2 separate regions of the Homo sapiens genome follow, and region 1 is linked to region 2. Evidence: fine-mapped expression QTL. A gene starts in region 2. The other region holds a variant in brackets. All regions are shown on one strand. Distances are between the middles of the regions.

The links.
Region 1: its variant is fine-mapped to the expression of KCNN2 in esophagus muscle (GTEx, PIP above 0.99).

What each region holds. Positions count from the first base shown.
Region 1 is chr5:114,143,155-114,151,493 of GRCh38, forward strand. It overlaps a transcript of KCNN2 not described here. Among named protein-coding and RNA genes, the nearest start is that of KCNN2, 210 kb to the right of the region's middle. The variant A/G (reference allele first, on the strand shown) is at 3,772.
Region 2 is chr5:114,358,639-114,366,977 of GRCh38, forward strand. It overlaps KCNN2 (potassium calcium-activated channel subfamily N member 2), which reads left to right and starts at 3,432. Exons shown (of 8, transcript NM_021614.4): 1 at 3,432-4,623; 2 at 5,268-5,363. The coding sequence starts at 3,502. RefSeq lists an enhancer at 1,545-2,461 and a silencer at 2,500-2,709.

The DNA of each region.
Region 1 (8,339 bases), 220 kb before region 2:
AGATTAGTAAGAAATTTAGGGTCATTTGATTATGAGGTGAGATGGTCACATGGGAATGAAGTAATTCTTTAACAGAACATCTGTATACAGAAGTACAGTATACAGAGATAAAAATTTACAATATAGTGTGTGCATCAGTAATTTCTAACAGAGCCTTAAAACAGAAACACAGTCTTTCCATAACCTATGATTGGGAAGATATTAATCAGTAGTAATAGTTGCAGCAAAAGCTGGTTACAAACAATCCATAGAAACAACGTGATGCTAGACAACCGGTTAGACCAAAAATTCTCAGAAGGGAGTATGCCTTAACCCTAAAGAGGCCTAAAAGAGCCATGGCAAAATGAGAGCGTTTATAGCCCTGTCTTATCCCTATGAACAGGTGCCCCTCGTGCGTCCATTTATAGGCTCTCCACAAGGGTCGCATTCCATACCCAGAGCTATGAACATCTGTTTTTCTGTGATAGGAATCTTGGTGATGTGAAACCTCCGTGACTGCACGTCCATTCATAGGCTTTTTGCAGTGGGAAGTACTTCATGTGCCGTTGGCTCATTCTGGCAGTCCAGCCTGGCATTGTCTTTACACAATCCTGCGTGCAACTTTGTATTTACAATAATCAGGAACATTTCATCTTTTATTCTGTAGTAGCAATAGTTTCAGGGGGTCTCCCTACATCTCCCCCTTTTCTCTGATTTAAATGAACCGTAGCAATCATAGCTTGGCACTGATCATGATTGGACTGAAGAATATTTTTTCTAGTTTTACACATGAATAATAAAGCAATAGCACAAATTATACACGAACAAAATTAACGATTGTGGATCCTCCCAAAAATTTTACCCATTGAATGGTGTTGAGATTAGATAACCCGTCAGATATACTGTCTAAAACTTCAGCACCAGGTAAAGCAGTTAAGTGTGCTTGAGAGGCCTCAAAAATCTGTTCTTTTAGCTTGCTTATGTCTAAACTTAAATTACCTTCAGTTCCTTGTCAATGGCGTTTTACTGATTCCCAATTGTGAACAGACTCATTATGTTGAAACGGAGTTATACAAAAATCAGAAGTATTCCAATCACATTGCATTTGTGATCTTTGTTCTAAACTCATAATTCTATCTCCCATCCATATAACAGTTTGTCTTAGATCATTAATTTGGCCAATTTTTGATCAATACCTGACTGAGAATTCCACATCCAAGTAGAATTTTTTTGCCATTTATCCACAAAATGGGCAGTTTGAATTGATTGATGTAATGGAACTCCAGCAGTAGCAGCAGTCACCGTAGCAGCAATCAAGCCCATCATTACTGCAATTAATGTAAAAATAAATAGTTTACTCCTTTTAAGAATTTTTTGTAGAATATTGTTAATAACATGGAGAGAGGGGAAAGATTCCCAAGGCCTATGTAAGGCTACGGGGAGCCAAATACCTTCTCTGGCTCTGACTATTAAAATGCTATGATACTGATTAAAGGATGAGTCAATACAAGTATACAAGTAACAATTAACACAGGTAATTATGTTGGTTTTTGAACTAGTATGCATCTTTCCTACTAATAACATATATGGTGGTTTAACACAACTTTTAAGTAGTATAGTTTTGTTGGATTCCATATAGACAGTGTATATATTTTGGGATGGTACTCTGTGAATGTGGGGTGGGGGGAATAGGTTGTATGAGAGGTGGTGGGGGGACATTAGTGATGGGGGGGTATAAGTCCTCATAATCTTTACTGTCCCATCTTTGAATTGACCTTTTGACGATTGCCATAGTGATATTTTTGGCTGTGTGGAAATAGTAGTGTAAATCAATCTGTTGTCTTAGTTTTTGAGGTGACAAGGTGGATTTACTTATAACACTTTCTCCAGCCCAAACTCTCATACCAGTCATAGCTATGGTTAATCTCCATAATTCTGAATGTTCAGGTCCTAAGTGGGGAACAATGAGCCTTGGCTTTGGAGGGGCAACCCCTGCCCCTTTCCACTTAAAAGGAAAAAAGGAGTTAAATCTACGATATAATAGGGGAGGGTTGTCACTACTTTTTTGTAAGTAATATTATAGAGAAAATGTTGACAATCTGTGACCCTGAGAGCAATCATTAGTAATATGACCTTTAGGAGCCCAATCAACAATGGTATAGTGAGAAGAATTAAATAACACAGTTCCTTCTGAACTAACACAATCCTTCCATATTAATTTGTTAGCATTTGAAGACACGTTGAGAGGACACACAGGTCCTAAAGGCTTATATTGGGATGTGTGAATATAATCAGCGAGCAATTCCTATTTTGATCTGCCTTAGAAGTTTTAATGAGAGCCCTGATACCAAGTGTCCTAAAGGAGGGACAGAGTGACCAGATGGTAGTGTGACTGCCCAAGTTTGAATATCTAATGAGAGATATCCATTAGTGGGTCCCAGGAACAAAAGTGGATACCTAAAACCTAAAGTGATATTGAAAGGGGTTCCGTCTTCTGAAGGTTGGGCAGGACAACGATCATCTACAGAACCAGGCATCCAAATACTATCATTAACATAGACCTGATAGGAGCGTCCATCCATATCATGGCTCAAATAAGAGGAGGAAAAGGAATATAGGCCCAATATGTATAGTTTTTAACAGTCTGTGGAGTGACACAGGGTAGAAGGATCAGTGTCATCAGGAGGGGGCAGAGGGTGAGCCGGACCTGGACCGCTGGAGACGAGTTGTTTAGGATGGCTGACTGGATTGTCTGTTGTAAAGGAGTTAGCGTGGTTATTTTTTTTCTTTTTGACGGTTGGATGTGCTAGTTGTTTCCTGCTGTGGCATTTTTTCAGCAAATTTCTCTGTCTCGTTGTTGCATGCATCTTCAGGACACAATTTCAGGTGTCTAGCAGGAATGCAAACAGGAGGTTGATGTTCACCTGGGGAAACACAAGCATAGCCTCTTCCCCACGTTAAAATAGAAGCTTTTGACCATATATTAGATTGAACATCTTTCCACCATACTTCCCTTACTTGGTTTATTGTCAGATGGTTACCAGAAAAAATGTTTTTCGGTGACAGTAACAGAACTAGATTTAGGAATATTAAGAAAATTTAACATGAGCAATGCCAAGTTTAGTTGTATGTGAGGGGTAGACAACTCCTTATCCCCCTCTTTTGTTTAAGTAATTATAATTTTAAAGTTCTGTTACTTCTTTCTACAATAGCTTGGCTTTGTGGGTTATAAGGAATACCAGTAATATGTTTAATATGCCACTGATCAAGAAAATTTTTAAAAGCTTTACTGCAATAGGCTGGACCGTTGTCTGTTTTGAGCTCACTAGGAATTCCCATAACTGCAAAACATGAAAACATATGTTTTTAACATGAGAAGTGGCTTCTCCGGTTTGACAGGTATCCCAGATGAAATTGGAAAAGGTGTCAACTGTGACATGCACGTAAGCTAATTTTCCAAAAGAAGGAACATGAGTAATATCAATTTGCCAAAGAGCATTAGGAGAAGGCCTCAGGGATTAACTCCAGTGTTGAGACAATCTCAACACTGATATTGAGAACAGTATTGTACAATTTGTTTAGCTTGTTTCCAACTCAGAGAATATTTATGTTTAAGACCTGAAGCATTAGTATGAATGAGTTGATGAAATTGTTCTGCATCTGTAATGGCTAGAGAAACTAGAATATCAACTTTATGATTACCACTGGATAAAGGTCCAGGCAAATTAGTATGAGATCAAATGTGAGTGATGAAAAAGGGGTGGTTTCAGTTTCTGACAGGTTTTTGTAACA[A/G]AGAGAACAAGGAAAACAGATTAGTGTCAGCAATATTTTTGATGGTAGCTGTTTCTATTGCCTTAGTGACAAGCACTATATAAGCTGAGTCAGAGACAATATTAAGAGGCTGATCAAAATCTTGTAATGCAGAGATAACAGCAAACAGCTCGGCTTTTTGAGCAGAAGTGTATGGAGTAGAAATGACTTTATCTTTTGGTCTTACGTACACTGCCTTTTCATTACTGGATCCATCAGTAAAAATGGTAACACCTGCCTCTAGTGGTGATGAACGAGTAAGTTTTGGTAGAATCCAGGAAGTGTTTCGTAGACATTGAAAGAATTTTGGCTTAGGCAGATGATTATCAATAGTGCCAGTGAAGTCAGCCAGATTAGTCTGTGCCAGCACAAGGATGTAGAAAAGGCATTTTTAACCTCATTTTTTGACAAAGGGACCACAATAATGTTTGGATCAAAGCCGGAAATTTTAGTGATACGTTGACGTCCTAACCCAATTGAAGTGACCATTTGATCAAGATATATTGAAAGAGTTTTAGAGGCTGAATTAGGAAGAAATACCCATTCAACAAGAGAATCATTTTGTACTATAAGTCCTGCAGGACAGTGGATGAAAGGAAAAACTAAATTTGTAAAGGCAAATTTGGGTCAATATGAGAGACTTGTCCCTCTTTCACTCATTGTTCTACAAAAGACAACTCTTTTTCTGCTGGTTCAGATAGACAGTGAGGACTGTTTAGATCTGTATCTCCTGATAAAGTAGCAAATAGATGAGATAATGCATAAGTAGGGATGCCTAGGATTGGTCTGAGATAATTGATGTCACCTAGTAATTTTTGAAAATCATTTAAGGTGTTTAAATTGTCAGTATGAAGTTGGACTTTTTGGGGCTTAATGGCGCGAGCTTCTAGGTGCGTTGGTGCATTCCTAAGTACAGAAAAGGAGTGGCTTGTTGAATTTTATTAGGAGCAATGTGGAGTCCTGCATTGGCAACAGCTAATTTTAAAGAGGTAAAACATTGAATTAATTCATCTTTAGTAGGAGCAGCAATCAGTATATCATCCACATAACGAAGAATGTAATTATTTTTAAAAATCTGTCGAATAGATTGTAACACAGTACTGACAAACAACTGGCAAATAGTAGGACTGTTAATCATTCCTTGAGGTAAAACTTTCCATTCATATCTAGCTGTAGGAGCTGAATTGTTAATGGAAGGTATAGTGAGAGCAAATTTTTCACAGTCTGACTTGTCTAAAGGAATATGAAAAAAGTAGTCCTTAAGGTCAATGATAATTAAAGGCCATTTCTTAGGAATCGTGGAGGGGGAGGGCATACCAGGTTGTAACACCCTGATAGGTTTAATAACTGCATTAACAGCTCTTAAGTCTGTTACCATCCTCCATTTTCCTGACTTTTTTTGTGCAACAAACACAGACGAGTTCCATGGAGACAAGGAGGGCTCAATAATGTTTGCTTGTAGTAAATCATTAACAATTTCAATTAAAGCCTCCAACTTGTGTTTGGAAATTGGCCACTGCTCTACCCAAACAGGTGACTCATACATCCATTGTGTAGAGGCAGAGGAAGAGAAGGAGAGTGAGGGCACTGGGACGTGGACTTGGGGGAGACAGGATTCTAAGCCTCTGAAAGAAGGGGTCCTGGAGTGTCGAAAGAAACAGTAGGCTTAGAAGAGGGGAGAGTTCTAAAAGGATGAGAGGAATGAGAAACAGGCCATTCAGATGAATGCCACATGTCCTCCTCTGGCAGAGGGGGCAATGGCTTAGTAGAAGAAGAGTTAACATATACAGGTTCCAAGATAGGAGGTGGAGGGAGGGGATCATCACCAGGTTCCTCCTCTTGGGGAGAAAACAAGGAGAGATCAAATTCCTCATCATGATCAGAAGGAGGACTAGTAGGGGGTCAGCTACTCGAGGTACAGGGAGCGGCTCACCATCCGTGTTAACTTGTGGCAGTTGAAGAGGATCACCAGACTGAAAAGGAAGTAAAGTGACCTGAATAAGAGCCCAGTCAGCCCAACCAGAAATAGGAAGTAAAACACCATCTCTCATGAGTTGGCAGAGGGTGGTGCCAACTCTATCCCAGTCTAACAGGTCCATAGAACCTTTGTCAGGGAACCAAGGACAATATTTTTCAATAGTCTGAAATAAGAGAATAAGGTTATAGGAATCAGCCTGGATTCCACCCTGTTTAAGAAGACGTTTAATAAAAGACAGATAAGCCTGGTGTTTAGAATGTGATTGTCCCATAATAACCCTGGAATAATACCAGTTGACAAACCTGAAAAGAGGGGAGAGTCAGAAAAGGTGTACCTGGAGACCTTATCGTCGAGACCGAAGACTAGTCATCATGAACCCACACTCAGAGTGCACTGAGCCGAGGAACAAAGAAGGCCATATTGGGTGCCAGATATTGCAGGATCTGGCCAGCAGCCCACAGTGCAGCGGGGCTCTTTCCTTATTCCTAGGCAGATCGACAGGTCGAGAAATAATAGACACACACAAGATAGTGAAAGCTGGGTCCAGGGGGGTCACTGCCTTCTGGTCCCGTGATGCCGCCAATGCACTGGATATACCAGCATTTATTATTAAGTTTAGTGAGGGCGGGGGTAGGTTAGTGAGGGATTTAGGGTCATTTGATTATGAGGTGAGATGGTCACATGGGAATGAAGTAATTCTTTAACATAACATCTGTATGCAGAAGTACAGTATACAGAGATTAGAATTTAAAATATAGTGTGTGCATCAGTAATTTCTAACAGAGCCTTAAAACAGAAACACAGTCTTTCCATAACCTATGATTAGCAAGATATTAATCAGTAGTAATAGTTGCAGCAAAAGCTGGTTACAAACAATCCATAGAAACAGGACGTGAAGCTAGACAACCGGTTAGACCAAAAATTCTCAGAAGGGAGTATGCCTTAACCCTAAAGAGGCCAAGAAGAGCTGTGGCAAGATGAGGGCATTTATAGCCCTGTCTTATCCCTATGAACAGGTGCCCCTCATGCGTCCGTTTATAGGCTCTCCACAAGGGTCGCATTCCATTCCCAGAGCTATGAACATCTGCTTTTCTGGGATAGGAATCTTGGTGATGTGAAACCTCCCTGACTGCATGTCCGTTCATAGGCTCTCTGCAGGGGGAAGCACATCACGTACTGTTGGCTCATTCTGGCAGTCCAACCTGGCATTGACTTTACATAGTCCTGCGTGCAACTTTGTATTTACAATAATCAGGAACATTTCGTCTTGTATTCCGTAGTAGCAAGAGTTTCAGGGGGTCTCCCTACATACCTGACTTCAAACTATACTACAAGGCTACAGTAACCAAAACAACATGGTACTGGTACCAAAACAGAGATATAGACCAATGGAACAGAACAGAGTCCTCAGAAATAATACCACACATCTACAACCATCTGATCTTTGACAAACCTGAAAAACCAGTAAAACTTTCTTCACTTCCATTCTTTTGCCTATAACAGAAAAGTAGAGAAAGTAAAAATGTTTGGTTTACAAAGATAAGTGGCCTCTTTAACCAAAGAAAATCAAAACGTCGACAGCATGAAAGACCAAAGATACCTCCCCACATTCCCTGAGCTGACCCTTGTCATCTTACACAAAGCCTTTGGTCCACTGGCCAGGGGTCCTATATCTGGCCAATTTAATATGAGGGCTCAGGAATCAGACCCGTCTTTTCCTGTGACAAGAAGTCAAATGGAAACTACACCAAGGGCCAAATACCTGTATCTTACAGGACTCAGAAACTAGGCAGCTTCTTATAAAAACCAAATAAGCAAGGCCGGGCACAGTGGCTTACACCTGGAATCCCAGAACTTTGGAAGGCTGAAGCAGGCAGATCACCTCGGGTTGGGAGTTCAAGACCAGCCTGACCAACATGGAGAAACCTCATCTCTACTAAAAATGCAAAATTAGCCATGCATGGTGGTGCATGCCTGTAATCCCAGCTACTCAGGAGGATGAGGCAGGAGAATTGCTTGAACCCGGGAGGCAGAGGTTGCGGTGAGCTGAGATGGCGCCATTGCACTCCAGCCTGGGCAACAAGAGTGAAACTGTGTCTCAAAACAAACAAACAAACAACAACAAAAAAACAAATAAAGCAAGATTCCTTTCAGGCACAACTTTTTAATTTGTTTTGTTTTTGAATTTTTTTTTTCTTTAAAATCAAATATCACTGAGAAACTTTCTAGTGTAAAACAGATCTGTTACATTTGGGTAGAGTTGAGAAAAAAATGATTCTTTTGGCTTTCTTTTTCTGGTAATAGAAATCACAGAGCTTAAGGGATCTTAGAGCTAACCCTCTCACTCATTTTTGATTTTTGAAACTATTAATAAGTTAAAACTTGATTAAATGGCAGTGGGTTGGGGACAGGGCTCAGGTACCCCCAGCCCCTTCTTTACTCCAGTGTGTTCTCATTCCACCGTCCTGCCACTCCAGCTCCCTTCCTTCCACTTGGTGGGACAGCAAAGGGGGTTGTAATGAGAAGAGTTGGGACAGTCAGCTTGGGTTAGGGTTGCTTATCAGCTCTTTCT
Region 2 (8,339 bases):
TTGATCTGCGTCTTTTTTTTTCCCCCAATGTTTCTTCATTTCCTTCCTCTCTCCTTCTCTCTGTACTCACAAATATAAATAAGTATCTACTATGTGCAAACTACTATCCACGTGGAAGAATATTGCCTTTGTTGCTTCATTTAACTTTACATGTTACATGTATCTCTACAGTCCTGTGTAGAAAAAAAAGAAATCATGTTATGCACATTTTAAATGTCTACATATAAACTTAAAATTTGTTGACTTTATTAAAAGAGGAATGATGAAAATAAGAACTTCTTAAATGTGCCTGTTATAACCTAATAGTGTAAAATGCCTTAAATAATGAAGTTATGATTCAGACTAAAAATGAAACAAAATTATCTTGTGTTTTTTCATCATCATAGTAATACAGGTTTACCACACTCTCAATATACAGATATTTATTAGCAAGACGGCTGAGTGTGTGTAATCAGTTGATTTCTTAACAGAAAGCCGATAAATGTCTGATTGATTTGCTCTCTGTCCAATCACAGTGAGTTTTACATTATTAAATTATTTTATGAGCTTTTTCAAAATAGTGCTAGCCGGAAGTAGTATTAGTCTGAGTTTTGGTGTTCCGACAGTCCCTCATGTTGTGAATCAAATTTCCATTTTCTTCTGAATTTTGTGCATTCTATCCTCCTGTGTACCCCCTTGAAGAGAAGTGAGAACTCCATGCAACATTGCCATAAATCTCAGTAGGCAATTTCTGAGATGATTATTTCTACATGATTTCTACATGATTAATAGCACTGCAACTAATCCCATATTACAGCATAGAGATATACATGGCAAAAGATACATTTTTGCCTATTATTTTGGTTTTGGAGCCTCTGTTGAAGCCGTGAATTTGCTATTTGACAAAGTCAGTTTGACACAAGGGATGCAGCCATTATTTTTCTTATGACAGTTTAGTAACTGTAGAACCTTATATCTAATTTAATGCTGGCAACAACTATTATGATATTTCAGGGGTGGAGGCTATGTAATCTTTTATCTAAATTTATGAACGGCTAATAAAAATATTTATTAATTTACCATAATGTTCCTTTGAAGTATTTAGATTTGTAAGGATGAATCAAACATTTTCACTCAATCGCTACGTATAGCAACTGGAAAGCTACATAATTTGTTGAAAAGCGTCCTAATACATGTTTGATGGATTTTCCGCATGAGTTGAATTTCTTTTTCAGACCAGGTTAGTAACTTTTCATAGGGAAACTTTCATTTTAATTCAAATTACTTCGCAGGATTGTTTTGAATACTCATGCTTTCCACACAATTTATGCAGTATCTACTCAGCTGCCCCGAAGACTCAATTAGCTTCGTGATTCTAAAGAAGTTTTATTGAATTGCTATTTTGAAGATACAGAACAAAAATAGTAATAGATGATAAAAACAAAATGCTGTCTCTGATTGTTAGCCACTAAATTATATTCTTGACCAAGACCATTGAGAAATTCAATTCCGGACAGTATTAATTAGCTCAAGTCCAGGGCTACGGGACTAAAAGCAGCTGTGCACCCCCCACCCCTTTTTTTCTGCTGAATGTTTATTTGCACACACAAAAAATTAAAATTAACATGTGTCCAAAGAACATCATAAAATGAATTATTCATTCCATGGCATTGAAAGCGCACACACGCACACTCTGAAAAGCAGATACCAGGTAAGCAACTTTAGGGCAGCTGCCGAGTAGAATATCAAGAAATTGGATCCAGCTGAGAATTCCAATTACCTAATGACCTAATGAGGGTGATCCGCTTTCACTCTAATTGCTAGGTCTAACTCGTTGTAATAGTCTTTATCATGAAAAGCAGGCTTTAAAATAATTTAAAATGGAAACAAATATTCAACGGGCCAATTTCTTTCACCTTCTTTAGGGGGAGACGGGAATTTGAATTCACAAAGAAATGCAAATGTAAAGACTTAAGATGGAGCAGAAACAAAGAACATAAGGATCACCTAGTGCATTGTGTTGGTACATCTCTTAGAAGAAGACAGCACAGGGAATTTGTGAGACACCAAATGCAATTTTTGTTAGTTTATTAGAGAGTAAATAAATAAATAATGATACCGAACTCCAACAAAACTCCAGCACTGTCCGTGGGCAGCGACTATTCAGCCCAAGCTATCATTCTTAATTTCCCTGCCAGGCTGCGACTACCGGGGTGAATCAGCCCGCGCCAGGCCCCTTTCCCACCCGCCGCTGCAGTTAGGACTTGGCAAAGATGCTCGATATTTGCGTATTTGTGACCGGTCTTTGCTTTGTGTCTGCGCTGCAGGTGAGGAGGAGGAAGAGAAGCAGAAGAGCAGCTGGAGGCCGGCGGTGGCTGAGCAGCCCCCACACCTTTGAGCGAGCCGCCTGCCTCTCCACCGGCAAGGAAGCCCTGGGACCTCCGGATTCGGGCTGCCGGAGGGCCTGAGCGCCAGAGCCCAGGACCCGGCGGCCGGGGGCGCCATCCCCTCATGTTCTGGAGAAGGCGCAAATGTGAGCTGGCGGTAGCGGGGAAAGCCCTCCGCCCCCGCCAGGGGGGACCCGGGAAGCCCGGCCGGCTCTGTCGGCAGACTGCGGGGATCCCCTCCTCCGGCCCCGCCCCCACCCACCCCCGGCCGGGGTGCCGAGGCGGTTAACCCTACCCGCGCCGCAGCGCACTTGGGCTAGAGCGCCGCGCACCCAATCCAGATTCCAGAGCCTGCCGGCTGGGAAAGATCCGGTCTCGGGGTCGGCTATGATCCCGCAGCGGCCAAGGCAGGGCTCAGGCCCCGGGATTCTCCCCACACGCTGCTGCACTGGCGCAGCCGGTCGCCAAACTTTTTCTCCCCAAAGCCAGTGCCCCCGCAGTTACTTGGCGGGCAGCCGGCAGCCCACTCTCGGCGGGATGATCTGGGAGAAGCGGGCGTGGGACGAGGGGGCTGCTGTTTTGCAGCCCTGCGAGGCGTGCAGTCGGAGAAGTGGTCGGGGTTCCACACCGTCCCTGAGCCTGCCCCCGGCCAAGGTGGCCCGACGTGCTGCAGTGGCTGGCGCAGGTGATCCGGGCAGCGCGTCCGGCACTAGTCAAGGGGGCAGCGGCACGGGAGGGAGGGGCGCCTTTCTCTTTTCTCCTCCCCCTGCAGCCCAGCTGCACTGCGTGGGGGCTCTCCATCTCCACGCAATCAGCAGGCGGAATCCCTGCCCTGGAGCGCCCTGGCTCTGGACTGCACCCCCCTAGGGTTTGTCCTGCAGATTCCCCTCCCCATCTTTCTCTGCCACACACGCTTCCCTAAGCCGCGCGCGCCGCAAACTCAGTCTCGGTCCCCGCAGGTGATGTCATGCCCATTGTTTTGGTGCGCCCAACCAATCGGACTCGCCGCCTGGATTCTACCGGAGCCGGCATGGGCCCTTCCTCGCACCAGCAGCAGGAGTCCCCGCTCCCGACCATAACGCATTGCGCAGGGTGCACCACCGCTTGGTCTCCCTGCAGCTTTAACAGCCCTGACATGGAAACCCCATTGCAGTTCCAGCGCGGCTTCTTCCCAGAGCAGCCGCCGCCGCCGCCGCGCTCCTCACACCTGCATTGCCAGCAGCAGCAACAGAGCCAGGACAAGCCGTGCCCGCCCTTCGCGCCCCTCCCGCACCCTCACCACCACCCGCACCTCGCGCACCAGCAGCCGGCCAGCGGCGGCAGCAGCCCATGCCTCCGGTGCAACAGCTGCGCCTCCTCCGGTGCCCCGGCGGCGGGGGCGGGAGATAACCTGTCCCTGCTGCTCCGCACCTCCTCGCCCGGCGGCGCCTTCCGGACCCGCACCTCCTCGCCGCTGTCGGGCTCGTCCTGCTGCTGCTGCTGCTGCTCGTCGCGCCGGGGCAGCCAGCTCAATGTGAGCGAGCTGACGCCGTCCAGCCATGCCAGTGCGCTCCGGCAGCAGTACGCGCAGCAGTCCGCGCAGCAGTCGGCGTCCGCCTCCCAGTACCACCAGTGCCACAGCCTGCAGCCCGCCGCCAGCCCCACGGGCAGCCTCGGCAGTCTGGGCTCCGGGCCCCCGCTCTCGCACCACCACCACCACCCGCACCCGGCGCACCACCAGCACCACCAGCCCCAGGCGCGCCGCGAGAGCAACCCCTTCACCGAAATAGCCATGAGCAGCTGCAGGTACAACGGGGGCGTCATGCGGCCGCTCAGCAACTTGAGCGCGTCCCGCCGGAACCTGCACGAGATGGACTCAGAGGCGCAGCCCCTGCAGCCCCCCGCGTCTGTCGGAGGAGGTGGCGGCGCGTCCTCCCCGTCTGCAGCCGCTGCCGCCGCCGCCGCTGTTTCGTCCTCAGCCCCCGAGATCGTGGTGTCTAAGCCCGAGCACAACAACTCCAACAACCTGGCGCTCTATGGAACCGGCGGCGGAGGCAGCACTGGAGGAGGCGGCGGCGGTGGCGGGAGCGGGCACGGCAGCAGCAGTGGCACCAAGTCCAGCAAAAAGAAAAACCAGAACATCGGCTACAAGCTGGGCCACCGGCGCGCCCTGTTCGAAAAGCGCAAGCGGCTCAGCGACTACGCGCTCATCTTCGGCATGTTCGGCATCGTGGTCATGGTCATCGAGACCGAGCTGTCGTGGGGCGCCTACGACAAGGTACAGGCTTGAACCCCAGCCCACGCTACCGGAGTCGGGCACTGGGTGGTTGGGATGGGCACTGGCGGGGACCCTTTGCGTGCGGATCCCTAGCCTCTCCGGGACGATCAAGGGAGCCCGCCAGGACAGCGGGCGCGTCTAGGACGCGCATCCGTAGTCAGCTAAACAACTCGGAGATGAACCCTTTCCGCGTGCAGCCAAAGTTCTCGAGGCAGTTAAGAGTGCTCAGCGCATTCGGGCACCTTAAGTAAGTGGTTCTGGAAGTCGGTGGGGAAACCATCTGTAATTCATCCCCTCGTGAATTATGTTTAGAAGGGCCCTTTCAACCCGCTCTCTTGAACTCAGAAGTAAGTTCCTCTGGTTTTGCTAGCCTGGAACAGCGGCGCTCGCTTCGGTCCTCTATGGCGTGGACCCAGCAGCCCAGCCACGCGTCTTCCCAGTCTTTCCAGGTCTACTCTCGTCTCTTTTGGTTTTGAGGCCGAGTGATCTGACAGATCACAGAGCCAAGACAGGTGCACCCCTCTCCCCTTATCTTCCTTCTGTGAGTTCAGGTCCACCTGTGGGGGACTGACTGACTCTGGGGACGTGGAAGGCGGTTAAAAGTGCTTCTTTCTTAAAAGTGCTTCTGTCTGACTGTGTTGCAGGCGTCGCTGTATTCCTTAGCTCTGAAATGCCTTATCAGTCTCTCCACGATCATCCTGCTCGGTCTGATCATCGTGTACCACGCCAGGGAAATACAGGTAACTTAGGTCCTGCTGTTTATGAATGACCCAAAGCCCTACAGTCAGCCTAGAGAAACGCAAGGCAGCAGAGGCTTTTTTCAAGCCATCATGTCCTTGCTTGAGGTTACAGAAGACACATGCTGTATTGTTACCGTTAGCACCTGACCTGTTCTTTCAGGAAGTGGAAAACAACACAAGGCAGGGTAGCATATAAACATGCAGCATTTTCTGAGGTGTATTTGTTGGACCCTTAAGATTTTTACTTCTCTTCAGTAGGTGGATCCTTTTCTCCAGATCAGTCACATTTTGTTCCTTAAGGCCAGTTATGCTCTAGTTTTAATCTGGAATGAACTTGTGTTCTTGTTTGAGACACCTCTTCCTAGTGGGTGCGTCATTATGGGAGATTGTATCTATCTATATAATCTTCTGTAATTTAGCATAGAGAAGAAAACTGGGTGATGAGTTGCCAGCTAATTTATATAAATGAGATATGGGAAAAGATCTAACCCCTTCCTAAATCCCCCACCATTAAAAAAAACTGTTGTAAGTTTAGAATGCAAATTCTGTGTATCCAGTCATGAAGTATTTTTTAAAATGTAATTTAAGAGTTAAGGCCACTGTCCTTGTGAGTTCTTTTTTTTTTTTTTGAAAATATTTCTTTTGTTTAAATGCAGCCAGGAGCTCTATATTTGACTGTTAGTATCCATATCAGAATGCTCTATAAAACTTACGGGTCATCTTGTCAGTTGTTAGCCTACACAGGAATATTAAGGCTTTTAAATTAAAATAAGTATAGAGTTTTCAAAAATTAGATTGGGACTTTTTTCAGCTTAGAATTTGCACTGTGTGGGAGGCGCGGTGGCTCAGTCCTGTGGTCCTGGTGCATGAGAATTTGCACTATGTATTTTCTGAGTTTTTTTTTTTCTTTTTTGAGCAGTTGTTAGACATTTGGTGGTACTTTGAGACCCTTAATTTAGGCCATCTTCCTTTAGACTGCCTCAGATTTAAGCTGCCTTTCAATTTAAAATCTTATATAGGATTTGCCTTTGAAGTAATTTAGTATTAATTTAAATTAAATTAATTTTAAATTAGTAATTAGCAAACACAAAGTAAATATGGAAGAAATCGTTTTTAATGATGCCCAGACAAAATAGTGATGCACATTACTCCAAGTGCAGAGGGAGAAATTACTTCACGTTGCCTTTATACTTGTAAAACTTTGAAAAATGTGTTTTTGAAGGGATGAGGTTGGAGAATGATAATTAGAAAGAGTGAGACTACTCAGAAATAAATTACAAAACTGCACTGACAAAATGAGATGAACACACATTTGAATTTTTTAAAGTTTTAACAGTTTACATAGATTCATCTTTAATTCAATACTAGTGATGGTTGGGCTTTTGAGATTATTTTGAACATTTTAAAGTGATACTAAAATATAACTTAAACATTAGAAATTTATCTTTTCATTTTGACTTGAAGAGTAGACAATTAGAGCTGGAAGGAACAAAATAGGTTTAATGGTCCTTTGACTCAGTTTACAGATAAGGAATCTGAAATCAGCAGAGGTAGCTTGCCGGGCCACACAGCTAGACAGTGCACAGTGAGAACCAGCCCTATCCTAGCTTCCAGGCCATAATGCTTCCTCTGCGAGCTGCTGCTACATGCCAAAAACTGTGAAACGTGAATATTTCTTTTTCTGCAGTTTCCCTCTAAATCCAAAAGTTTGGTATATAAATTCAGTTAAACTTAAAAGATCATTCCAAAATGTTCTTACATATTTTTAAAAATCAAGTTAACTTGAAAAATGTTTTGTTTGGAGGACAGAGTCGTTTTGCTTAATGATTCTGAAATGAGAGATCTTGCTGGGTTTTATTAAATATCAGCTTTGTGTTATTGCCTGTTCCTTGTGAAAATCACACAGCTAAAGAAACATTCATGGGGGAGGACATTTGCTGGTATTAACATCAAAAACAAAGTGTCTTGAAAACATTGACTCTTTAAGAATTATTGGGAGATTTTTTGAAGTAATTCATAGGAGTCTAAGAGCTACCAAATGTTAACTATTTGAAAAAATTGATGTCATATTAGAACGCTTAAAATTTACAGAAGTTTATAAAAAATCATATTTTTATAGATTAATGCTTGAAAGCATTCCACTCATTGGCTAATTTTGAGGACCATTTCAATTATGCATATGCACATATATTTTGATTAGGGTATGTATTGCATGGGTGAGAAAAATGACATGGAATGACTCTCCACGGCAAATATGCACAGTGAACTTCCTTACTGTTGGTCAACATAAACGTTATAGAATGATATATGTTTTAAAATTCGGTTTATTTTATATGATATGTGGTTTCTGTTAAACCCACTATACTTAAGATAATTTCAAAATAGATGCTTGGGTCATGTCATTTAATTAATTTGGATGTAGCTTTTTTACTCGGTGTATTATCTAGAGGGATTTCTCCTTTAAGCTGAAGCTCCAAATTCTTATCTGAGATGCTTTTATTAAAAAATAAATAAATAAAATGGAGAAGGGCCAAACAAATGTGAAGACCCTGAACTGGAAGTCAAGAACCAGAAAAAGGTAAAGATGTTCTAATTTGTCCAGAGAAGAGCGTCAGCAGGGCTGTCAAATACCTTATTCTGAAACACAATGAAACCAACTGCTCAGGCTTATGTATATGCATGGAAAATGATGAATTGCCCCCCGCCCTCCTTTTTTACTTATTGATGTCACTGCTGTGGGTATATATGTTTTTTCATAAAAAGTTTTAAGCTAATGAGCACTTCTCAGCTCACGCTAAATAATTCCAAATATATCAATTAGCTTTGAGTTAAGAAACTAAATGCAAGGTTATGCTGCCATTCATAGCGTGTCCTTGGATGTAGCATATAATCTAAAAGGACAGTTTAGCTTTTTCTTTTTAGCATATCAGTATGATAATCAGATAGTAAAAGCTCGCCAGTGCAGATTTCTGGTGC